3 separate regions of the Homo sapiens genome follow, and all the other regions are linked to region 2. Evidence: fine-mapped expression QTL. A gene starts in region 2. Each other region holds a variant in brackets. All regions are shown on one strand. Distances are between the middles of the regions. Region 1 holds the start of SPRR5 (small proline rich protein 5). Region 2 holds the start of SNAPIN (SNAP associated protein). Region 3 overlaps NPR1 (natriuretic peptide receptor 1).

Evidence for each region. PIP is the estimated chance that this variant, and not a neighbour inherited with it, causes the effect.
Region 1: its variant is fine-mapped to the expression of SNAPIN in fibroblasts (GENCORD, PIP 0.95).
Region 3: its variant is fine-mapped to the expression of SNAPIN in lung (TOPMed, PIP above 0.99).

The regions. Positions count from the first base shown.
Region 1 is chr1:152,940,658-152,948,833 of GRCh38, forward strand. It overlaps SPRR5 (small proline rich protein 5), which reads left to right and starts at 6,549. Exons shown (of 2, transcript NM_001395435.1): 1 at 6,549-6,591; 2 at 7,880-8,176. The coding sequence starts at 7,898. The region is part of intron 1 of LINC01527 (long intergenic non-protein coding RNA 1527); the gene reads right to left. The variant CGTGT/C (reference allele first, on the strand shown) is at 3,987.
Region 2 is chr1:153,655,042-153,663,217 of GRCh38, forward strand. SNAPIN (SNAP associated protein) reads left to right here and starts at 3,662. Exons shown (of 4, transcript NM_012437.6): 1 at 3,662-3,845; 2 at 4,097-4,143; 3 at 4,407-4,525; 4 at 6,159-6,811. The coding sequence starts at 3,703. The coding sequence ends at 6,260. ILF2 (interleukin enhancer binding factor 2) reads right to left here. Exons shown (of 14, transcript NM_004515.4): 11 at 8,174-8,176; 12 at 7,978-8,092; 13 at 7,664-7,754; 14 at 6,747-7,515. The coding sequence ends at 7,355. RefSeq lists an enhancer at 3,428-3,507.
Region 3 is chr1:153,680,053-153,688,228 of GRCh38, forward strand. It overlaps NPR1 (natriuretic peptide receptor 1), which reads left to right. Exons shown (of 22, transcript NM_000906.4): 2 at 449-648; 3 at 1,128-1,241; 4 at 1,652-1,787; 5 at 2,446-2,537; 6 at 3,324-3,459; 7 at 3,688-3,772; 8 at 4,912-5,032; 9 at 5,754-5,828; 10 at 6,071-6,148; 11 at 6,594-6,698; 12 at 6,964-7,035; 13 at 7,148-7,304; 14 at 7,582-7,737; 15 at 8,001-8,169. Among named protein-coding and RNA genes, the nearest start is that of NPR1, 5.5 kb to the left of the region's middle. RefSeq lists enhancers at 4,453-4,954, 4,955-5,454, 6,858-8,057, 7,556-8,176. The variant T/C (reference allele first, on the strand shown) is at 3,540.

The sequences.
Region 1 (8,176 bases), 710 kb before region 2:
GTAGAAGAGAGTTTGCAGAGAGAGAGACTGTAGACAAGGGGATGGGCAAGGGACCTCTTCAGCAGTGAAGGCAAGAGCTGGTAAAGCCAGGACAGCCTAGGGCAGTGACCTAGAGATGGGTCAATGGGACTTGGCAAGTGGATGTAGTTAGAGGTAGTTCCCAGCTGCTGCCAGGGCTGCCAGGAGGATGGTAGGTGTGGCGAGAGCAGGGGGAAGGGATGAGAAGTTCAGTCCTGGACATGCTGAAATCAATGAGCCTTTGAAACACTAGATAAAGGTTTTTAAAATAAATGTATTTATTTTTAAATTGACAAATAATTACATACACATATTTATTAATTTATGGGGTGTAATATATGTTTGCATAGATCAAAACATCATTGTGCCCTAAACGGAGATATTGAGGCAGCAACTGGATATATGGTGGATCTGAAGGACAAGGTAGAGGCCCAGCCTGGGGATCTAGGGATAAAAAGTTGCTGGTCCTTCGAGGAAAGGTGGCATTTCACACCATGGGCATGAAAGAGATCACCACAGAAAGCAGGAGCCTCCTGGAGGCAGAACTGCAGAATTTCAGTCCTTCAGGGACTTCATTCCATAGCATGAGGCCATACAGGATGAGGGTATGTCTTGGTCTGCTGGGGCATCAAAGTACCCCGGTACTCCTCTCTCACGATGGTCAAGTCACTGGGTCTGGGCATGGTAAAGCCAGGTGGCTGTGGGGGCCATGGAGATGAACTGCTCCTGACCCACGACTAAAGGCTCCCTAGGAGTCGGTAAGAGAGTGGGTGATATGAAAGAGTTAATCCTCCAGGATCTGAGAGACTGGGCAAAGGCAGAGGAGGCATGAGCCGGACTGGGTTCTGTCTCAGTGAAGTCACCATGCAGGCCACAGCATGTCTCCCAGGCTGAGAGGGATGGACCAGAGCTTCACACTGTGTCCTGGAGAGTCTGGGAGGAGTCGGGAGGGATGGGGTGTGGCTGCTATGATAAGCCTGGTCCTGCCACCTCTGCAAAGGCCTGGCTTTTAGGAACAGGGATGCCAGGAGGGGAGAATTTCCAGCTGAGATTCTGACATCACCCAAAGTCCTCATTTGTTTGGTTGGTTGGTTGGCTTTGGGTTTCGGTCAAGCCCTCTCTATGGCATCTTATAAAATGTGACCTCAAGTAAGTCATTTCTCTTTTTTCATTCACCTATTCCATATTTGTTAGTGATTAGGCTTGAGAGACCACATTAGTGGTTCTTAGGTGTTTGGGTTTCACTAAACCTAAATTTTAAAAAAAATAGTCAATAAGGAACAACTCTTTATTTTGCCAAGTAAGGGCAAAGGCCCTTTGTAACAACCATCACTTTACAAAATAAAGATAATTTTAGTACTAGTAACTGTGAAAAGAATATAGCATCAAAAAATAAACAAAAGACCTTCCAAAGAAATAAAAGCCACTAATCTTATACCAACTGCTATAAAATAACCTTATACCAACTGCTCAGAGGAGAAGTCAGCCTCTGAGATGGGGCTGGTGTTGGCAGCAAGGCACTGGGGAAGACAGGAAAGGCCCCCAGACTGTGGACCCCTGTGGGCAGAAACATTTCTCATTTCTCTGTGGCTTGTTGAGAATGTCATCCGGTGTTGGCACAGTGCTTGGGTTGAGAGTTGGGAATGTTTTTTTCCTGATTACTGGGCTCCTTCCAGCTCTGGCACCTGTTAGTCCAGGGCACTCTGTGGTCCTTGACCGACAGACCAGTCCTCTGCCTCTGCTACCAGGGCAGAGGACTGGACCTTCTGGGGCCTAAAGCTTCTTTGCTTATGCTTCTGTCATTTATTTTCTAGTGCTTGGCACAAATCTGGTGCCCAGCAGGTGACATCCCTGACATCACTCCCTCCTCTCCAGCTGCCCTGCTGCTTCTCCTGGGTATTCTGCTCTGTCAGACACAATGTGTGTAAGCAAATGTCTTTTTTTTCCCTCCTCTCAGGCCTAATATCTGTATGCCCCATTTTTGTCACTTAGAATCATGAGGTCCCCTTGCCTCCTCCTTCCCTTTCCTTCCTTCCTCTCAGTCCTCCAGTCCTGGGTTTTCTCATTTCAAGTCATTCTTAAGCCTGTCTTCCCTCCCCACTTCTATTGCTGCCATCCTAGGTGAGGGCCCTATCATTTCTTCCCTCCCAACTGGTCTCCCTGCCTCCATCTCGTGCATCCTCACTCCTACCCCACCTCACCCTGAGTTCCACTGTCAAATCCATCCCCAGAATACTTTCAGTCTTGTCCCTCCTTTGGGAAAATTATACTGTGCTCAAACCTGGCACAGACCTTGGGGATGATTCTCTTTACAGAATAGAAAACCTGAGCCCCGGAGAGTGGAAACCAACCATCCAAAAGCACACAATTACCGGCCAAGCTAGAAGCTAGAACACCCAGGCCTTCTAAATATACACTAGTGCCTGTCCACCTCCTTATTATAATCAATAGAATTTTGAAAACTATACATTATACTATACATTATAACATTGGTAGAAGATTCCACCCTAAAGGTAACCTCTGCACTGTTTAGAAACAGGACCCAGCCTCCCACCCTGCAATTTCAGCTCTCCTGGCTAGTCTAGAGTGCAAGGCCTTCGCTGGGGTCTGGTCTCATGTCCACTGCCCAGTGCTCATCACCACTGCTCAGCCACTACACTCATGTTGACTTCTTCTTTTTCCAGACACACAAAGCATCTTTCTACCCTCAAACAGTTTCTCAGACCATTCTTTCATTAATTTCACAGAAAACAATTTAGCTTCAATTCTGAACCATAGTTTTGCTAGGTGCTAGGATACAAAGATGAAGTCAGTGTTTCTTCCCACAAAGGGCCCACAGTTAAGGGTCATTTTCTGTCTTCCCCAGTGCCTTTCTGCCAACATCAGGCCCATCTCAGAGGCTGACCTCTCCTCTGAGCTCCTTCACCACCCTTGTTCCATATCACCCCTCAGGTCCTGGCTCACAATGCTGGCTGCCAGCACCAGCTCCTCTGTCATAGCTGGTCTGGCCTTATTTCCCCAAGAAGATCATGAGCTCTGAGAGGGTTGGCTCTATGTGTCACACAGCTCCCCATCCCCCACAGGACTTGGCGTGGGGTTTGCCTCCTGCACATGTGCTGAGTGACTGGAACACTGCTAAGCTCTTGCCCTTACCCTCTGCCCAGATAGGTCCTGGTCTTTCTCAGGTTGGATGTTCTGCAAGTGCCCAGAACTAGAAGCCAAGCGAGTGGGTGTCTATTCACAAGTCAGAGGCATCCTGGGGGGCAGGGCCACCCACCCCTGCCCCTAGTATACACCTCCATCCCTGCCACCTCACCATCAAGTTCATGTTTATGAAAGTGAAATAAGGAGGAGATGAACTCCTAAGAAAATCTGAAGAGGAAAATGATGTCCTCAAGAGCCATGTTGTGCCTTAGCCATATGGGAGCAACGCAGATGTGGGAAGTCATTTCCCGGCAGATAGGAACCTATGGTAGGTGGTATGTTCACATGTTTTGAGAATTGACAGAAGAGGCCGGGCATGGTGGCTTATGCCTATAATCTCAGCACTTTGTGAGGCCGAGGCAGGCATATCATTGGAGGTCAGGAGTTTGAGACCAACCTGGCCAACTTGGCGAATCCTCATCTCTACTGAAAATGCAAAAATTAGCCGGGTGTGCCAGGCATGATGGCACATGCCTGTAATCCCAGCTACTTGGGAGGCTGAGGCAGGAGAATTGCTTGAACCCGGGAGGCAGAGGTTGCAATGAGCCGAGATCGTGCCACTGCACTCCAGCCTGGGCAACGGAGTGAGACTCTGTCAAAAAAAAAAAAAATTGGCAGAAGATACCACCTTCCATCTCATCAACTTTACTGCATGCTGGCCTTATGCCCCCATAAATACTTGGGGCCAGAGTATAGGAAAGACCCCTGTGTTTATGTGTAAATGTGCATGCATGTGTGTGTGTGTGTGTGTGTGTGTGTGTGTG[CGTGT/C]GTGTGTGTGTGTGTGTGTGTGTGTGTGTGTGTGAGTCAGGATTGAAGAAAGAGAAAGACAGAGAGCAATGCTAATGAAGGTCAGTGGTTAATACCATTCCAAAACCTGGGATAAGTAATTGGGTTTCTTAGTGGCTTCTAGATTACCCATTCATTTTCTGTCCTCTGGTGTCAGAAGCAGTTCTGTGTTATACATTCTTGAGGTAGCTGACTCCACCACACTCACACACAAACACAAAAAAACCTGTCCTAGGTGGTTGGGGCACATACAAAAAATAATTAACAGGATTTAACACCCCAAGCCCCACAAATTAGCTGATGTTCACACTTTCTTCAGCCATGTAGGCATCATTCCAGTGACATGTGGGTTTGATTTCTTTGGTTAATACAAACCTAACAATTGAAAAGTATCTGTAAGAGTTGGAAGTAAGAAGGTAAGAGGACGTGACACAGTTTTAGTGCCCCTTCCCATCTACAAAGGCCTGATTCACAAGGACAGACTTGCCAAGCCAGGCTTCCCTCTGTCCTGTTGCCTTGGAAACAGCAAGGGCCTGGCCATCCTTGCTTCCCCCTGCATCCCCAGCATGGACATAGTGCCTGGCACATGGAACAATTGCATCTTAATGAATAAATGGTTAGCCCAGGATAACAACTCCACATAGTCTTTCTTCTCTGCTATTAGGGACCTGAGCTGAAATCCCTCTCTCAGGCTTTCTGGGGCTGCTTCTGTCTGAGTGATACCAGCTTGAAGGGATTCTCCTCCTGGGAAGGGCTGGACTCCTCTGGCCCTCCTTAGTTACTAGCCCGTGCACATCTTGTGATCCCAGAGAGTCAGGACCATGGTTTAAGAGAGAGAACATCGGTTTCCACACCTGTGTCTTCTAGTGATGCAGCATGACTCCCCAAGGTCTTGGGATGTTCTAAGGCTTTTATTAAATAGTGGAACCATGGCTAAATTTCATGGCTGAGATTTAAAATGTGCCATCTTCAGGACTAGCTTGCCTATTTCCATTTCTCTCACTCAAAAGTCTTTTTTAATGTATTTTTAGGGGAAAAGTAAAAATTATATATATGTACAGTGTACAATGTGATGTTTTGATATATGAATATATTGTGGGATGACTAAATCAAGCTATTTAATACATGTATTACCTCACATATGTATCATTTTTGTGTGGCGAAAACACTTAAAATCTACTCATTTAGCAATTTTCATGTCACATATTGTTATTAACTATAGTCAACATGACTTCCAGTGGATTCCTTGAACTTATTCCTCCTGTCTCTTTCAACCAAGAGCTTATGACACTGGGTGGCAAGTGCCACTACTTGCCTCCAACTTTTTTCAACTTCCTATTCCATATTTCTAAGAGTGTGTCTTGCCCTAGTATTCAAAGCCCATCTCCATGGAGCACCCAACGACTGTTGACCATGCATTTTGTGCCAAACACTTGCACATACTTTAAATAAGTTGTCCATTTTAATCCTTACAACTGACATGCAGAATGGTGCTGTTACCCTCTTTAGCAGGTGAGAAAATTGAAGTGCAAAAACATCTGGTTCCTAAGGTCACCCAACTGGTAAAAGGCAGAGCCTCAGTCTGAGCACCACTTGGGAATTTTTTAAAGATGAGCTCCATCCTTTGCCAGGTATGGGAAGCATCCAAGTCTGTATCCCGTGCCACCCTTCTTTGTCCTGGAACTTCTAACAGAAGTTAGGAGGAAGAGCCAGGACTGGGGCCCCAGGAGCTCAGAACCCAGAATCCAGTCACTGTGACTCCTCCATGAGCTCACTCTAATGCAATGCTTCTTAGCTTCCCCCACCCCCTCCACCTTATGATAATCATTTCCCTGGGAACCCTGGAGTCATATGGATATGTGATATATGTAGGGAGATTTAGAGATAAGCACTATCTACTGTAACCAACCAGTTTCCCCGAATGGGGCCTAACGATTTTCCCAATAGCAGAACAGACAGAGAGTGGCAGCTGCCATTTCTTGTATAAATAACAATAGGTAAAAAATGAAAGCCTCTTGTCTTGTCTTCCCACCAGTTCAAGCTGAATGTGACTCTGAGCCTAGGTCAAGTCAAAGTCACAACTTTGCTGAGGGTGGTGGGTTTCCAAGAGAGCCATCTGCCCCCTCAGCTGTTTTCTTATGTTACCTGCATAAGCTGCCTGTCCCATCCCCTCCTCTCTGCCAACCAGAACATCCCAGAACACTGCCCTCACACCCCCACACCCAGCATGGTCGGAATGCTTGCTTGGGACCATCCTAGATGCCAGGGATCTAAGTCAAAAGTCATGAGTGGGTTTGGAAATCCAAGGAAGCCAGTCCTCGTAAAATGATGGGGAGATGAGGCAAGGGGAGGGTGAAGGCACTGTCATCTCCAAATCCCGCCATACCAGCCCTGGGGGTGAGTAAAACTTAAAATTTGAGGAAGGACAGGTGGATCCTATTGTGACTAGGGACTAATTAGGACACCCCAATCCTGGGCCACCTCATGGCCTCAGGCAGGGATGAGAGGTATATAAAAGGTAGATAGGCTCAGAGCATCCCAAACCCCTCCACACCTATCTGCTCCAGTCGCTGGTGAACCTTGGTAAGTCTGGAAAGGTAGTACCTCTTATAGCAGCCTTGCCTTGCCTGCATCCCTAACCAACTATGGACTGGGCTGATTCTCTGGGTGGTGGTCAGAAAGGATGGGTCTTTTGGGGTACCTCTTTTTTCCATATCATTTGTGACAAACCTATCTTGGGTCCAGCAAGTTATCCAGCAGAGTAGTGTGGGAGGCTGGGCTGAGCAGGGAGAAGGAGGGGGGTATCTACAAGAGGGTCAGTATCTCAGCGATGCTGCTGGCATGGTGTGGGTGTTGCATCTTGTCAGGTGCTAAGAGGGAATTAGTAGGAGAGGAGAGACCAGTTCTGGGCAGAGCAACTGGAAGGACTGTCCTTTCAAAGAAAAGAGAAGGCAGGAAGGAAAGAGAACAGACTCCCTTGGGACAGCAGAGTTGTGGATGTCCATGGAGCAAAGGGCTGCAGGGACAAGACGATGTGGCACCATGGAAGGCTCTGCTCTGGGAATCAGGAGACCTCTTTTCCCACCATCTATGCCGAGTGGCTTTGAAGCCATTCCTTCCCTCTGAGGTTTGCTTTCCTCAACTGTAATTGAGAGAGGCAAGCTAGATAGTCCATTTCATCTATCTCTAGAGTTTTCTCTTTATAAACTCCTTTAGAGAGTGGTTAAGATGCGCCTTTTAAATTGTTTATGAATTTACTTAACAAATTACAACTCTTATATAGTGTTCATTTTGTGCTACTACTCTGCATGTGTGTGTCGGTACATACATACCTACGTATGCATGCATATTTTAAGTATGTATTTTATATACTCATTTAATTTTTGCACCAACTCTAAGAGAGGTAAGTATGGAAAACCTTAGTTGCTCAAAATCATATAGTTAATAAATGATTTAGCCAGAACTCAGATCCCAGGCAATTTATTCCAGATGCCACAGGTTTTGCTATAATAGGATACAACAGTCTGCTCTTTCATTCTTCCTCTTTTTTTTCCTCTCTCTCCCTTTTCTTTTTTTATGTTTTTCTTTCTTTTCAACCCCTCCTAACATTTCTGTTTTCCCTCCCTTCCTCCTTTCCTATCTTTCCTTCCTTCCATGTTTCTTTGTCTTGAAAAGAGTTGAAATAACTTGTAAACACTTAAAGTTTACACATGCGCGCGCGCACACACACACACACACTCCTCTTAAATCTGTGAAGGGATCAGGGCAAGGTAAAAGCAGAGCAGGACAGGAATGTGGCAGGGGGTTCACCTGGGCTTAGGGTCTCTCTATGGCTCAAGTGTTCCTCATTTCTGTGTCTTTCTGTTTCCAGTTGCAAGTCCAGCCCAGAATGTCTCAGCAGAAGCAGAAGCAGTGTGCTCCCCCGCAGCAGTGCTGCCCCCCACCCCAGCAGCGCTGCCCCCCACCCCAGCAGTGCTGCCCCCCGCCTCAACAGTGCTGCCCCCCACCCCAGCAGTGCTGCCCGCCGCCTCAACAATGCTGCCCCCCTCCCCAGCAGTGCTGTCCCCCACCCCAGCAGTGCTGCCCTCCACCTCAGCAGTACTGCCCCCCACCCCAACAGACCAAGCAGCCTTGCCAGCCCCCACCCAAGTGCCAGGAGCCCTGTGCC
Region 2 (8,176 bases):
TTGCTTGAACTCGGGAGGCAGAGGTTGCAGTGAGCCGAGATCGCGCGACTGCACTCCAGCCTGGGAAACAAGAGTGAAACTCCATCTAAAAAAAAAAAAAAAAGAGCCAGGCATGGGGGCGGGCGCATGTAATCCCAACTACTCGGGAAGTTGAGGCTGGAGAATTGCTTGAACCCGGAGGTGGAGGTTGCAGTGAGCTGAGATCATACCCCTGCACTTCAGCCCAGGCAACAAAGCAAGACTCTATCTCAAAAAAAAAAAAAAAAAAAAACTGTTGTTTATCTGAAATTCAAATTTACCTGGTGTCCCAAGTGTTTTGTTTATTCTGTTTGCTAAATCCGGCAATAGGGAGTATTTAATCTAAAGAATTGAAGAGGCACCTGAAAGGACAGTGGCCTAACACACAAGGGCTTCTTGTGCAAACAGTGGGCCATCAACCTCCAAGGCCCTCTCCCAGCCCAGGTCAACACCTGTTCTCTCTTTGCAGTACAAGCCTCAGAGATTTCAACACTTTTCCATTCCTCTTCAACACTGTCACTACTTTCTCCCCTGGGCTTCCTTTTCCCAAGGCCTGACTGTGAAGCAGGTTGCAGTTGCCTTGCCACTTACTCCCAAAATAAGCTCCTAGCCTCTCGCAAGAGCTTTACCTCTAATCACCAGAGAGGAAGATACAGGGATACAAACGTAATCAACGACAAAAAGTGTATAAGGTGGTTTTTGGTGTGTGTGTGTGTGAGACAGAGTCTTGCTCTTTCACCCAGGCTGGAGTGCAGTGGCATGATCACAGCTCACTGCAACCTCTACCTCCCAGGCTCAAGTGATCCTCCCACCTCAGCCTCTCGAGTAGCAGGAACTACAGGTGTGTGCCACCATGCCCAGTTATTTTTTTTATTAATTTTTTTGTAGAGATGGGAGTCTCCCTATGTTGCACAGGCCGGTCTTGAACTCCTGGCTTCAAGCAATCCTCCCGCCTCAGCCTCCCAAAGTGGTGGGATTACAGGCATGAGCCACCCCACCCAGTGTAAGTGTATAAGGTTTTAAAAGTTATCACAGTTGGGGCTGGGCTTGGTGGCTCACGCCTGTAATCCCAGCACTTTGGGAGGCCGAGGTGGGAGGACTGCTTGATGCAGGAGTTCAAGACCAGCCTGGGCAACATAGGGAGGCCTCGTCTCTACAAAAAATAATAATAAAAAAAAAGTTATCACAGTTGGGGTCTTAGGTTTAGAGCTGCTGACCACCAAATCTCACAGTGATTCAAATGCCTTATCTTCCTTTATTACTGAAGATGAAGCTCAAAGCTGAACGTTCTGGTGCCCATTTATCACTATGGATGCCTTTGCCTGTCCTCCAGGAGCATTTCTGCTCATACATCCTTCCCCATGGCCTAGGGAATTGGGAGCCACGGGAACACATTAGAGCCTAGGAGACAGATGTAAATTATCTGGAAAGCCATGAAAAACCAAACCGAACTAAACTAAGGAAGGAATCATTGTCTTCATAATTCTCAGGGAAAAAGAAAACCATGGAAGGGTGTCTTGAGGCCAGGAGTTCGAGAACAGCCTGGGCAACATAGGGAGACCCTGCCTGTACCAAAAAAATTTAAAAAATTAGCCAGGCATGGGGGCAGGTGACTGTAGTCCCAGTTACTTAGGAGGCTGAGGCAGGAGGATGGCTCGAGCCCAGAAGTTTGAGGTTACAGTGAGCTATGATAACATCACTGCACTCCAGCCTCAGCAACAGAGTGAGACCTTGTCTCTAAAAATGAAAGGAAAAATAAGTGAACTAAGGAAACTTTAAAATTTATTTTTATGGCCGGGCGCGGTGGCTCATGCCTGTAATCCTAGCACTTTGGAAGGCCGAGGCGGGTGGATCACGAGGTCAGGAGATCGAGACCATCCCGGCTAACGTGGTGAAACCCCATCTCTACTAAAAATACAAAAAATTAGCCGGGCGTGGTGGTGGGCGCCTGTAGTCCCAGCTACTCGGGAGGCTGAAGCAGGAGAATGGCATGAACCCGGGAGGCGGAGCTTGCAGTGAGCGAGATTGCACCACTGCACTCCAGCCTGGGTGACAGAGCAAGACTCGGTCTCAAAAAAAAATTTTTTTTAATTTTTATTTTTTGAGACAGGGTCTCACCCTGTCACCCAGGCTGAAGTGCATGCAGTGCCACGATCTTGGCTCACTGTAGCCTCAACTTCCTAGGCTCAAGGTCCTCCTACTTCAGCCTCCCAAGTAGCGGGGACCACAGCTGTGAGCCACCATGCCTGGCTAATTTTTTTTTTTTTTTTTTTTTTTGAGATGGAGTCTCGCTCTGTCGCCCAGGCTGGAGTGCAGTGGCGCGATCAGGGCTCACTGCAAGCTCTGCCTCCCGGGTTCACGCCATTCTCCTGCCTCAGCCTCCCGAGTAGCTGGGACTACAGGAGTCCGCCACTGCGCCCGGCTAATTGTTTGTATTTTTAGTAGAGATGGGGTTTCACCGTGGTCTCGATGTCCTGACCTCGTGATCCACCCGCCTCGGCCTCCCAAAGTGCTGGGATTACAGGCGTGAGCCACTGCGCCTGGCCGCCTGGCTAATTTTTTATTTCCTGTAGAGACAGAGTCTCACTAGGTTTGTTGCCCAGACTGATCTCGAACTCCTGGGCTCAGGTGATCCTCCCGCCTCAGCCTCCCAAAGTGCTGGGATTACAGGAGTGAGCCACCATGCCCTGCCTGCATGTTTATATTATTCAGCCTTAAAAAGGAATGAAATTCGGATACATGCAGTTTTTTACATATTTAATGCCATTAAAAATATACTCTTTAGAAATAGACCAGGCGTGGTGGCTCACGTCTGTAATCCCAGCACTTTAGGAGGCTGAGTTGGGAGGATCACCTGAGCCCAGGAGTTCGAGACCAGTCTGGGCAACAAACATAGTGAGACCTCTTCTCTACAGAAAATGAAAAATTAGTCAGGCATGGTGGCTAACACCTGTGGTCCCTGCTACTTGGGAGACTGAAGCAGGAGGACCTCTTGACCCCAGGAGGTGAAGGCTACAGTGAGCCAAGACGGTGGCACTGCACTCCAGCCTAGGCGACAGAGAGAGACCTTGTCTTAAAAACAACCAACCACAATAAACTCTTTAGAAATAGAAAACGATACTATGAATATAATGTGGCTTTCTCATAAAGTGTTTTTGTTTTTGGTTTGTTTTTGTTTGGTTTGGGTTGCTTTTTTTTTTTTTTTTTTTTTTTTTGAGGCGGAGTCTCTCTGTTGCCCAGACTGGAGTGCAGTGGCGCGATCTCGGCTCACTGCAATCTCCGCCTCCCGGGTTCAAGCGGTTCTCCTGCCTCAGTCTCCCAAGTAGCTGGGTGCCCGCCACCATGCCCGGCTATCTCATAAAGTTAACATGGGAAGGCTATGGACAACTGCAGGTATTCGCGTTTATTTTCACCTTTAAAGAAAACGAAAAGTATCCACTCCAAAAACTGGTTCCTTTCTACAACCTGAACTTTGGAGATTTTCAAGACCAGCCACAAGGCCTCTACTCCTACGGCCTGGCCCTCCTCCCCGCCCGGTTCGCGCTAGACTCCATTTCCCAGAAACCCCGGTGTCTTGGTGGAGACAGCATTTCCCGGGCGCCCCCTCACGGGGCGGGGCAGTGCGGCGCGGCTCCGGTTCCCGGCGGCCCTCGCGGCAGGTTTCGGGCTTCAGGACAATTCGTGATGGCGGGGGCTGGTTCCGCCGCTGTATCGGGGGCAGGGACCCCGGTGGCGGGGCCCACAGGCCGCGACCTTTTCGCCGAAGGGCTGCTGGAGTTCCTGCGACCCGCTGTGCAGCAGCTCGACTCTCACGTACACGCCGTCAGGTGCCCGGGAGGGAAGTTGGGGGCGGGGCCTGTCTCTCTGGCTTTGTAGGGGCGGGGCCAAGAAAGTGTTCTGGCTGGGAGTGGGCATAAATTTAGGAAACTGATTCGAGGCGGGGAGGACAGGCGGGAAGGCCGCAGGTGGAGGGTTCAGCGGAGGCCGGCTTCTCTCAGTACTTGGTAAATACGTAGGGGAGTTCGTTTCCTGAGCTCCGGTAACTGCCTGACCTTGTAGGCCTTGTACCTCTTTGCAGAGAGAGCCAGGTAGAGCTCCGGGAACAAATTGACAACCTAGCCACAGGTGAGTGAGCATCCCTGTGTACCCGGAATTCTTCAGCCCACTTTCAGGACCTTAGGTTTTTGCCAACCCCTGGGCTGAGTTTCTGTCACTTGCTTCCAGGGCATCAGGGCTGCCAAAGGACTCCTCCTTTCAGGGATGTCTTAAATCTCTAATGGCTGTGGCCCGTTTGGGTGCAAGTGTTTTCCATCCCATTACCAGCCTGCTTTCCCTCAGAACAAGAGATAAGCCGTTAGATCTTAGCTGCACCTTACTTCCATCCCCAGAACTGTGCCGCATAAATGAGGATCAGAAGGTGGCCCTGGATCTTGACCCCTATGTTAAGAAGCTACTTAATGCCCGGCGACGCGTTGTCTTGGTTAACAACATTCTACAGAATGCTCAGGTAAAAGAATATCTTACCAACAGTGATTCTTTGCCCTTTTTTGTAAGTCCTCAACACAGTGAAAGCCACTGTAATTTTAAAATTCTTTGGGGAAAGGGAAATTCACTTCTCCCAGTACTTGAAAAATACCTAGGAAAATTCGTCTCATTCTCACTATTCAGTTGCTGCCATTTACATTCTTGTGTGTGTGTGTGTGACAGTCTCCCTCTGTCACCCAGGCTGGAGTGCGGTGGCTCAATCTCAGCTCGCTGCAACCTCCGCCCCCTGGGCTCAAGCAATTCTGCCTCCGCCTCCCGAGTAACTAGGACTACAAGCGTGCACAACGCCCAGCTAATTTTTGTATTTTTTTGTAGAAGTAGGGTTTCTCCATGTTGCCCAGGCTGGTCTGGAACTCCTGGGCTCAAGTGAGCTTCCCACCTTGGCCACCCGAAGTGCTGAGACTACAGGAGTGAACCACCACACCTGGCTATTTATTTTTATGATACAAGGTCTATCACCCAGGATGGAGTGCAGTGGCATGATAAAGGCTCACTGCAGCCTCTACCTCCCAGGCTCAAGCGATCCATCCACCTCAGCCTCCCAAGTAGCTGGGACTACAGGCATGCACCACCATGTCCAGCTAATTTTTGTATTTTTTCTAGAGACAGGGTTTCACCATGTTACCCAGGCTGGTCCCAAACTCCTGCATGCGAGTGATCCACCTGCCTGGGCCTCCCAAAACGCTGGGATTACAGGCGTGAGCCACTGCACCCGGCCTGCCTGGCCTTTTTTTTTTTTTTTTTAAATAAAAAGACAGGATCGGCTGGGCGCGGTGGCTCTTGCCTGTAATCCCAGCAGTTTGGGAGGCCGAGGTGGACAGGTCACCTGAGGTTGGGAGTTGGAGACCAGCCTGACCAACATAGAGAAACCCCGTCTCTACTAAAAATACAAAATTAGCTGGGCGTGGTAGCGCATGCCTGTAATCCCAGCTACTTGGGAGGCTGAGACAGAAGAATCACTTGAGCCCGGGGGACGGAGGTTGCGGTGAGCTGAGATCGCACCATTGCACTTCAGCCTGGGCAACAAGAGCGAAACTCCGTCTCGGGAAAAAAAAAAAAAAAAAAAAAAGACAGGCTATCACTATGGTGCCCAGGCTGTTCTCAAACTGGGCTCAAGTGATCTTCCTGCCACTTCCTCCTAAATGGTGCTGGGATAGGCATGAGCACCATGCCTGGCCTACATTTTTTTTTTTTTTTGAGATGGAGTTCTCCCTCTGTCACCCAGGCTAGAGTGCAGTGGCACGATCTCATTTCATTGCAACCTCCACCTCCCGGTTTCAAGCGATTCTCCTGCCTCAGATTACAAGCACCCGCCACCATGCCCAGCTAATTTTTTTGTATTTTTTAGTAGAGACGGGTTTTACCATGTTGGTCAGGCTGGTCTTGAACTCCTGACCTCAGGTAATCCACCCGCCTCAGCCTCCCAAAGTGCTGGGATTACAAGTGTGAGCCACCATGCCCGGCCTACATTCTTATATATACTTTTGAAGACTGACTTTGAGGTAGATCACGCCCGGTATTTTTCAGCACCTAGTTCACTTACACTCTCAAGCCTTTCACAGTGGTTAAGATTCCAAACCTTCCTTGTCTTGTAGGAACGACTGAGACGGCTAAACCACAGTGTTGCCAAGGAAACAGCCCGCAGGAGAGCAATGCTGGATTCGGGAATTTACCCCCCTGGCTCCCCAGGCAAATAACAGATGAGCCTATGGACTCAGTAGCACAAGTACTGTTCCCCAGCTGCCTTGTTTCAACAGACATGCAAAGATCCTAGGAGACAGTCCCCATAGACCTTCAGACATTAAAAAGGGAGCCGTACAGTTTGTTTGAAGCACTTCGTCTTACCCATTTATGTAGGGGCCCCAGGAAACCTACACACAGCCAGAATGAGGTTCCCAAAGGACTTACATTAATTATGGCTCTTGCTTCCTTTCACAAATGAGCTGAGGCCTCTACTTTTTTTTTTAAGCTGCATACGTGAGGCTTACCTTCTTCAGGACTAGTTAACCAGAGGGGCTTCCTTTGTATGTTACATGCCTGGTTACATGGGCCTGGACAGCATGTCCTCTACCTGTGACTTCTCATTTTCCTGTTTACACTGGGGATTTGGAGGGGGCAGGCAAAGTCAAAGTGAATGACCTCTGTCCACCCACTTTTTTATTGCACTGGCTTGAATACAGTAGCAGTGTTGATAGAATCATTTTATTCAATAAATACTTAAAATGATATTCTAGTTTACTCTGGTATATGGAAAGGTTCCAGGAGTTTGTCCTTTAATTCAAAGACAGCTTCAAATTGTGATCTGAGTATTTATAATTAAATGACTCAATTATCATTTTCAACAAAAGAGTACACAAAGCCAAAAGCAAAAAAGGTTGCCACATGCAAAAAAACAAACAAACAAAAAACACCAACCAGAAAGACCAAGAGCCCTACTAGGAAGTACTTTAATAGTTTTTCTTAGAAAAAAAAATTTCCAGACACTTAACATTTCACAACATTTCAACAGCAAAGTATTAGTTGAGAGAGGGGTTTTCAGGAGTTGGAGATTATAGAATATTAGGAAGAAATGTTGGTATCCTCCATTATAGATGGATGGCATAGGTCACAAATGGGAGACTGGCAGCTAAGCCAATATCAAAACCCAGTGGAATGACACTTCTATGGAGTTTACTTTTCTTCCTGCTATCTTCCCTATCCCACGGAAATGTCTGTCACCATGTAAAGCCCAGTAGCAGGCAGCTTAGGCTCCAGTCTTCCCCCTTGGGTAGGAAAAGGAGTGAAGGGAATGTCACTCCTGAGTTTCCATGCTTTCTTCTTCCTCTCCTTGAGGTGGTTCTTCTGTATTCTCCTCTTCTTCCTCTCCTTCCTTCTTCTCTGGTGGCTTCTCATAAGCCTTTTCTGAAGGTGTTACTATCACTCCATCCCAGGTAGATATTTCAGAAGCAAGATCTAGGAAAGAGAAAAAGGTGATTTAGACGAGTAGCCCAGCATAAAAGTCATTACTTACACTGTGGAAATATTAAAGACATTTAAGTAGTGTACAGCTTCTCTGTACCAGATTACAATACAAAACCCCTGACCCACAGTGGTCACTCACAGCTGGCATCACCCTCCTGGCCAAGGATCTTCCTAAAGCCACCATGTGAGAGGATTCGGACGAGAGTCTGAGCTGTATAGCAGACCATGTCCTGAAGGAAAGCAAAGTGAGAGTAAGCAAGGAAAATCAAAGGACCTTATTTGAGTAATACCCTTCTGAAAACAGAGATTAAGACAGCTTTTTAAATCTCAGGACCAAAGTCTTTCAGAATCCCCAAATTCCTGACCCGTAAAGACCATATTCCGCTTTGCCTGCTGAGCAGCAGTATTCAAAAGAGTGGGGCAAAACAACTCAGTTCATATCTGTCCCAATACCTGCTGTTCTAGGGTCATGACTGTGTGTACTCTAAAGTTGCCACTCTCACAGGGGTCAGTGATACCCACTGAACCTGGCAGGAACAGTCCTGCAGCCAGAATCTGCAAGCAGCGCCTAGAACACAGGGAGGTATGAGGTATTAAAGGAATGCACAAAATAGTTTACAACCAACCCTAAACCCAAAGCATGCTGTACCTG
Region 3 (8,176 bases), 25 kb after region 2:
CACTCATTCCCTCCCACCCTAGCACAGCTCGGTTCCGGTCCCTTTTTCCCTCCCACATTTTCTCTCTTCCCTATAGCCTTCTCCCTTCTTTCATCCTCTCCTCTCATTGCGCCTCATCCCCTCTCTTCTCCCCCTCCCTCTCCCTCCTCTCTCCCTCCTGGCCCCATCCTTCTCCACCTTCAGCTCCACTATCCCCCTCTCCCTACCCGTTCCTTCCTCCCTTCCGCCTCCCCCTTCCTCCTCCCGCCCACCGCCCCGCACCCGCCCGTTCCACCCTTCGACTTTCTCCTGCTGTGGCCTAGGCTGAGCCGGGAGTTACCACTTAACTCTCACTGGGTCTCTCCTGCACCCTATCTCTAAACTTCCTCCCTTGGGTGCCCCAGCTTTCCTACTCCTGTCTCTCCCGCAGTACCTAGGCTTCTCTCTCTGACTCTCCGTCTTTCTCCAGTTATCTACATCTGCAGCTCCCCTGATGCCTTCAGAACCCTCATGCTCCTGGCCCTGGAAGCTGGCTTGTGTGGGGAGGACTACGTTTTCTTCCACCTGGATATCTTTGGGCAAAGCCTGCAAGGTGGACAGGGCCCTGCTCCCCGCAGGCCCTGGGAGAGAGGGGATGGGCAGGATGTCAGTGCCCGCCAGGCCTTTCAGGTGAGTACCTAGGTTTGAAGCCCAGGCTGTCTCAGCTTGTGGCACATCATTTCTGGGCACTGTGTCCCTCAGCGTCTGAAAGAATTCCAGAAAAGAGGTTTTTGTCTGTTTGTTTCTTTATGCACTCCTGGTAACTCACAGAACAGAAAAGAGGTTGGTGATGCTCACTGGGAATTAGGCAATGAAGGGCAGGGGACTGCCCAGGGGCGCTTCGCCACCAGCAGGCTAAAAAGATAAGAAAATGGGCTTGAGGCGGGAGGAGGATAAAGTCCCACAGCCTGGACAGGACTTGGAGAAGGCATCCCATTGGATCCCCTGCTTTGGAATGGGCATCACTTCATGCAGGGCATAGGGTCCAGTTTGACCTTGAGCTAAGCAGAGACGCAGCTCTGGGAGGTGGGCTCCCAACTGTTGGGGCCCCACAGTACTAGGGAATAGTCAGCTCCCAACTCTCTGCTCTCCACTGACCCCTTTCTCAGGCTGCCAAAATCATTACATATAAAGACCCAGATAATCCCGAGTACTTGGAATTCCTGAAGCAGTTAAAACACCTGGCCTATGAGCAGTTCAACTTCACCATGGAGGATGGCCTGGTAAGAAGGGGTCCCGGGACCCTCCAGCGTGGACCTCCAGCCCCCACTCCATGACCCTCTGCCAGCCTCCATCCTTCCCTATTCCCAGTTCTCCCCTTCCTTCCCTCCCTTCCCATTGTTCCATGTTTCTCGTGATGATGGAGGAGGACACTGGCAAGTTCAGCCTCTGAAACTCAGGTCATCATCAGTAATATGGAGACGATACATCCTGCCCTGTCTACCTAGTAGGATTCAGGAAGTGATGCTAATCCAAAGGCATCGTTTAAATAGTAAAATCTCCCTGTGATATAGGGGTGTTATTTTCTCCCATCCTCTTCCAAAATCCCAGTGCCTCTTGTTCCCTTCCCCACAGCTCCCACCTCCATGCCCTTCATATGCCCACCCCAGCCGACCTCTGTTTGCCCCTACAGGTGAACACCATCCCAGCATCCTTCCACGACGGGCTCCTGCTCTATATCCAGGCAGTGACGGAGACTCTGGCACATGGGGGAACTGTTACTGATGGGGAGAACATCACTCAGCGGATGTGGAACCGAAGCTTTCAAGGTCAGGGCCTGGAGGTGGCTGGAATGGGCTGCCTTGGGGGATGAATCCCAGGTGCCCAGTGTCAAGCCATGAGAAGCCTATTGTCCTGCAGCAGTTACCTATGCACACCAGCCTTTTCCTCCACAGCTTTTTTCAGGCCCATCCCTCAGAAGTCCTACAAAGTGTCCAATCTCAATCATCCCTGCTGGGCACTGAGTTCTTTTACCTTTCTTTTTCTTTTTTCTTTTTTTTTTGAGATGGAGTCTCGCTCTGTCCCCAAGACTGGAGTGTGGTGGTGCAATCTCGGCTCACTTCAACCTCCGCCTCCCAGGTTCAAGCAATTCTCCTGCCTCAGCCTCCTGAGTAGCTGGGATTACAGGTGCCCTCCACCAACACTTGGCTAATTTTTTGTATTTTTTTTAGTAGAGACAGGGTTTCACCACGTTGGTCAGGCTGGTCTTGAACTCCTGACGTCAGGTGATCTGCCCGCCTCAGCCTCCCAAAGTGCTGGGATTACAAGCATGAGCCACAGTGCCCGGCCGTTTTACCATTTACTATCATTCTGTATACATGTATGTTTGGAAGGCAAGGCAAAAAAGATTAGAGGATGAAGAGATGAAGTGGGGCACCCCTGAACTTCTATTCTCTCAAACATAGTCATCTTCCCCCATGTCCTCAGGTGTGACAGGATACCTGAAAATTGATAGCAGTGGCGATCGGGAAACAGACTTCTCCCTCTGGGATATGGATCCCGAGAATGGTGCCTTCAGGGTAAGTTTGTGCACCCAGAAGACAGTGCCAATTCCAAATGACATCTCACCCTCCTACTTCCCCCCCACAGCCCTGCCAGGGCACCTGTTTATCCTGTAGCCATTCCACCATGCCTGGACACTTACAAGAGCCCTGGATAAAACAGACCCAGCTCCAGTCTGGGGAAGCCACCAGAATGATAGGGACTCACAGGCATCACACTTGGGGAGCCCCATGCCTGAGGAGGGAGCACAAGCCTGCCCTCGGGGAGCTCCGAAGGGAGGCAGGCAGGACCGCCTCCCAGCAGAGACAGGGCTGTGAAAGATGCACATTACACAGCTCTGCAAGCGAGCAGGGACAGGAAGGCGCTGAGGCCAATGGCCACAAGGGACAGGTCATCCAGAGAAGGCCTCCTGGAAGACGGGCACATGGACTGGGCCTGCGAATGTAGGCTAAGGTGAACATTACCTTCTCCTGTTTTCTACCAAGAAAATAAGTAGAGAAAAATCAATGCTTGGTTGGTACTTCAACCAAGATTATAAACTCCCTGAGTGTAGAGATCGGGTTCTAAATGGAGTTTTCTTTATAAACCCCTTGATAGTTTTCAGGTGTTTCCACTTGAGTACTATGTGTGTGGTATGAGGTCCTGTGTCCAGTTGCAGTGGGGACTTGGTAAGCAGGTGACAACCCAGATATATATGTAGGCTCTAGAAGCAGAGCTGGGGTAGGTGGGAGGTGAGACTGCTGCACTCACAGCATGCCTTCCCCGCAGGCCCTGGCCTAGCCACCACTCCTGCTCTCCCTTAGGTTGTACTGAACTACAATGGGACTTCCCAAGAGCTGGTGGCTGTGTCGGGGCGCAAACTGAACTGGCCCCTGGGGTACCCTCCTCCTGACATCCCCAAATGTGGCTTTGACAACGAAGACCCAGCATGCAACCAAGGTGACTGCCCCTTGCCTTCCAGGCCTCCATCCCAGAGATGCTGCATCCTTCCCCTAAGCACAGTCGAGTAGGTGCTCCTG[T/C]CCCATGCTGAGGGCTTTCTGGAGAATGACTCCTGCCTTTTTCTTCCCTTCATCCATCATCCCAGTTCACTGATGGACTATTAGAAAGTTCTTCCTCCTGCTGTCTAACCCAAATCTCTCTTGCTGCAATATGGACTCTCTCCTGCAGATCACCTTTCCACCCTGGAGGTGCTGGCTTTGGTGGGCAGCCTCTCCTTGCTCGGCATTCTGATTGTCTCCTTCTTCATATACAGGTGAGCTGTGATGTGGGGGGTTGAGTGAGGCTGGGGGACCCGGAGAACCAATAGCAGAGGAGGCGGTGGGGACCCAGAGGGAAGAGGGCAGGGGTGAAGGGGCACCAGGGGAAAACCAAGGGAGATGAGGAAGAAAGGAGGCTTAAAAGCCAGAGGAGAAAGAAAGAGAAGGGAATGGCAGGGCGAGGGGAGGAGACAAGGATAGGAATGGCCAAGGAGAGTCAGAAAGATCCAAGAAGCAGAGAAGTTGATGGGTGACATCATAGGGGCGTGGACTGGTTTTCCTTGCTACTCTTGCAGGCCAGATAGGAAGCAACTTTCTGAACCTTTGCAATCATGCCCATGTTAGCTGAGGAGGGTGAGCCCTGGTGTGTGCCAGGTGCCCAACCTAGAATGGAGAAGGGAGCTGAATGAGCCTTGTTCCTGCCGTCCAGTGGAGGCTAAAATGAAGTACAGGAGGAGTTAATGATATACAAAAGCAAGGAGGGAGGGGAGAAAAATCACTGCTGGTTGAGCATATAATGTGTGCCAGGCACTTCCACGTACACTATTTCTTTCTTTCTTTTTTTTTTTTTTTTTTTTTTTTGAGACGGAGTCTCGCTCTGTTGCCAGACTGGAGTGCAGTGGCATGATCTAGGCTCACTGCAACCTCCGCCTCCCAGTTTCAAGCAATTCTCCTGCCTCAGCCTCCCATGTAGCTGGGACTACAGGCACATGCCACCACGCTCAGCTAATTTTTGTATTTTTAGTAGAGACAGGGTTTCACCATGTTGGCCAGGATGGTCTCGATCTCTTGACCTCATGATCCACCCACCTTGGCCTCCCAAAGTGCTGGGATTACAGGCATGAGCCACTGTGCCTGGCCTCATGTTCACTATTTCTTTTCATTCTTATAATAGTTAAGAATGAAATAGATATTGCGGCCTCATTCCCAAGTAAGGACATTGAGGTGATTCCCCCAAGGTCCCCAGTAAGGCAGAATTTCCCCCAGCCATCCTGATTCTCAGTCCAGAGGATAGAATTCCCCCTCCATCTCTGAGTGCATGGTGTGGTCCCACGGCTCTGAGGAGGGGCTGCTGAGCACCCTGCCCTGGGTCAGCGGCTCAGCCACAGGCTCAGATGCAGCCTTCGTATCCCAGGAAGATGCAGCTGGAGAAGGAACTGGCCTCGGAGCTGTGGCGGGTGCGCTGGGAGGACGTTGAGCCCAGTAGCCTTGAGAGGCACCTGCGGAGTGCAGGCAGCCGGCTGACCCTGAGCGGGGTAAGAACGCTGGTGTTTGTGTTGGGGGGCAATAAAGGAGAGGTGGGTACAAGGGGCAGTGCCTGAGGGATAGGTAAGGGAGCAGGATTCTAGTCCCAGCTCTGCTTTCACTTGCTGTGTGACCTTGAGCGACTCATAGTCCCTCTCCGAGACTGTCTCAGATGATGATTACAGCAGCAGAGCCTCCCTCACAGGGCTCTTTTAAAGGTCAGAGGAGATAGTACCTGTGAAAACACTTTAAAAAAAAAAAAAGTAAATGAGGAGGAAATTTTATGATGTGGAACATAAAGCAGGGTGGGCCAGGCACAGTGGCTCACATCTGCAATCCCAGCACTTTGGGAGACCGAGGCAGGAGGATTGCTTGTGCCTGGGAGTTCAAGACCAGCCTGGGCAACAGAGCAAGACATCGTCTCTACAAAGAATACAAAGATTAGCAGGGCATGGTGGCGCATACCTGTAGTCCCAGCTACTCTGGAGGCTGAGGTGAAAGGATCATCTGAGCCCAGGAGTCTGAGGCGGCAGTGACCTAGGATAGCACCACTGCACTCCAGCCTGGATGACACAATGATACTACATCTCAAAAAAAAACCCAACAACAAAAAGGAAGGGTGACACAAAGATAAGGCAGGATAAGGCAGGGAAATAAAGACCAGAGCACAAGCAATCAGGATGCAGACTGGGCCCACCGGCTGACCATTCCTCCTGCTCTCCCTCCTTTCAGAGAGGCTCCAATTACGGCTCCCTGCTAACCACAGAGGGCCAGTTCCAAGTCTTTGCCAAGACAGCATATTATAAGGTGGGCCTGGGGAAAGATCACTGGGCCTTGGGACTGGGGCAGGAGTGTACTCTGATGGAGGACTGGTGGGGGGTTCTGAGGGAAGGAGTAAGCTGGTGGGGAGCAGCAGATGGGGGCCCTGGGGGTGGGCTATTGGGAACAAGTGAGGGTCCTGAGGGCAGGGATGGGCTGTCGGGAGCAGCTGGAATTCCCAGGACATGGGACCATGCTCTTCACAGTGACAGTCTCCATTCCATGCCCAGGGCAACCTCGTGGCTGTGAAACGTGTGAACCGTAAACGCATTGAGCTGACACGAAAAGTCCTGTTTGAACTGAAGCATGTAATGTGGGGAGTGAGGCAGTGGCATGGAGAAGGGGCCCTCGGGGACGCAAGGGAGACTGGCCAACAGAACTAGTTATGGAGGGACCTCAGGGTACCCCAAGAAAGGGGCAGGGACTGGAGCCCTGGGATGGACCTTCATCTTGTGGGTGGGAGTGGGGGTATCCTAAGCTAGGAGAAGAGACCACTGGAGATAACCTGGAGGAATCTTGAGGGGCCATATGTGATGTCCCTGGGGGAGAGAGGGCTTAGGATGCAGAGGGAGTAGGAGCAGATTCTGGGGAGGGTGGGCTAAAGGACATGGGTGGGAATCACCAGGGAAGATCTTAGTGATGGTTGCAGAAAGTGAATAAGGAGTTAAGAAGAGTGAGGGTCCCTGAAGCTAGTGAGCAGCTTGGTGAGGAGCGAGGTCTCTGTCAAGCTCCTGATGCTGGTCCCACTTGCAGATGCGGGATGTGCAGAATGAACACCTGACCAGGTTTGTGGGAGCCTGCACCGACCCCCCCAATATCTGCATCCTCACAGAGTACTGTCCCCGTGGGAGCCTGCAGGTGAGGGGGACAAGGGGTGTCAAGAAACCTGGGTTCTAGCCCTGGCTCTGCCCCTGACTGGCCATAAGACCCCAGGCATGCCTCGCCCTCTTTCTGACCTTTCTGGCCCCATCTGTAAAAATGGGAGTTGGGGAAGGGCAGTGGCACTAGAGTCAATCCAAAGTTTTGTCCTGTTCTACCAGTTCACATCAGTAGGACCCTGCACCCTCCTCCAACTCCCAGGGGGATCTGCAGGGGATTGGTCTGACTCTTATTGCCCCAGCAGGACATTCTGGAGAATGAGAGCATCACCCTGGACTGGATGTTCCGGTACTCACTCACCAATGACATCGTCAAGGTATGCCCCTAAGCACCTATTGGATGTGTAGAGCAGGGGCCAGGCATGCTTCTCCTGGCCACGGGTGTAGGTCCCACTCCTGGCCAATACCTCTGCCCACTCACATTTCCAGGGCATGCTGTTTCTACACAATGGGGCTATCTGTTCCCATGGGAACCTCAAGTCATCCAACTGCGTGGTAGATGGGCGCTTTGTGCTCAAGATCACCGACTATGGGCTGGAGAGCTTCAGGGACCTGGACCCAGAGCAAGGACACACCGTTTATGCCAGTGAGCCTTGACTCTTGAACCTAACACCTGCCCCCAGCACCACCCAGTAGGGAGACTGATGCAAGGCCTCTGATGGGCTTGGGCATGCTTGTCCTGACTCCAGCCTCAATTCATTCACCCATGAAAAAGGGAAGGCCAGACGAAGTGGTTTCTAAGGCCTCCTCTAGCTCTAACACTCTGTGATGCATCCAGATCAGTTTCGGCCACACCCTTGTTTCCCCCTCACCCCTTAGCTTTGGGCTCCCTCACTCGGTGACTACCGACCTCTGACCCACAGAAAAGCTGTGGACGGCCCCTGAGCTCCTGCGAATGGCTTCACCCCCTGTGCGGGGCTCCCAGGCTGGTGACGTATACAGCTTTGGGATCATCCTTCAGGAGATTGCCCTGAGGAGTGGGGTCTTCCACGTGGAAGGTTTGGACCTGAGCCCCAAAGGTGAGAGGAGCACACCTTCCTTAAACCCAGCCACAGTCTCAACGAACCCCAGCCCCAGGGAGAGGGTCCCCTGGCAGCACCACCACACCTTCCTTCTGTAATGGGGTTCAGTCACCACCCTTTGACCCATTGCTGCCAGTGACCAGTCCCCCGCCCCCATGCCTTGGTCTTGGACTTCCCCTGCCATCTCAGCTGGTTGCCCCAGTCTCTCACTAGGCCCTTGGCCAGCCCCACCCCTCAGCTCCTCTACCCCCCCAATACAGAGATCATCGAGCGGGTGACTCGGGGTGAGCAGCCCCCCTTCCGGCCCTCCCTGGCCCTGCAGAGTCACCTGGAGGAGTTGGGGCTGCTCATGCAGCGGTGCTGGGCTGAGGACCCACAGGAGAGGCCACCATTCCAGCAGATCCGCCTGACGTTGCGCAAATTTAACAGGTCCCTG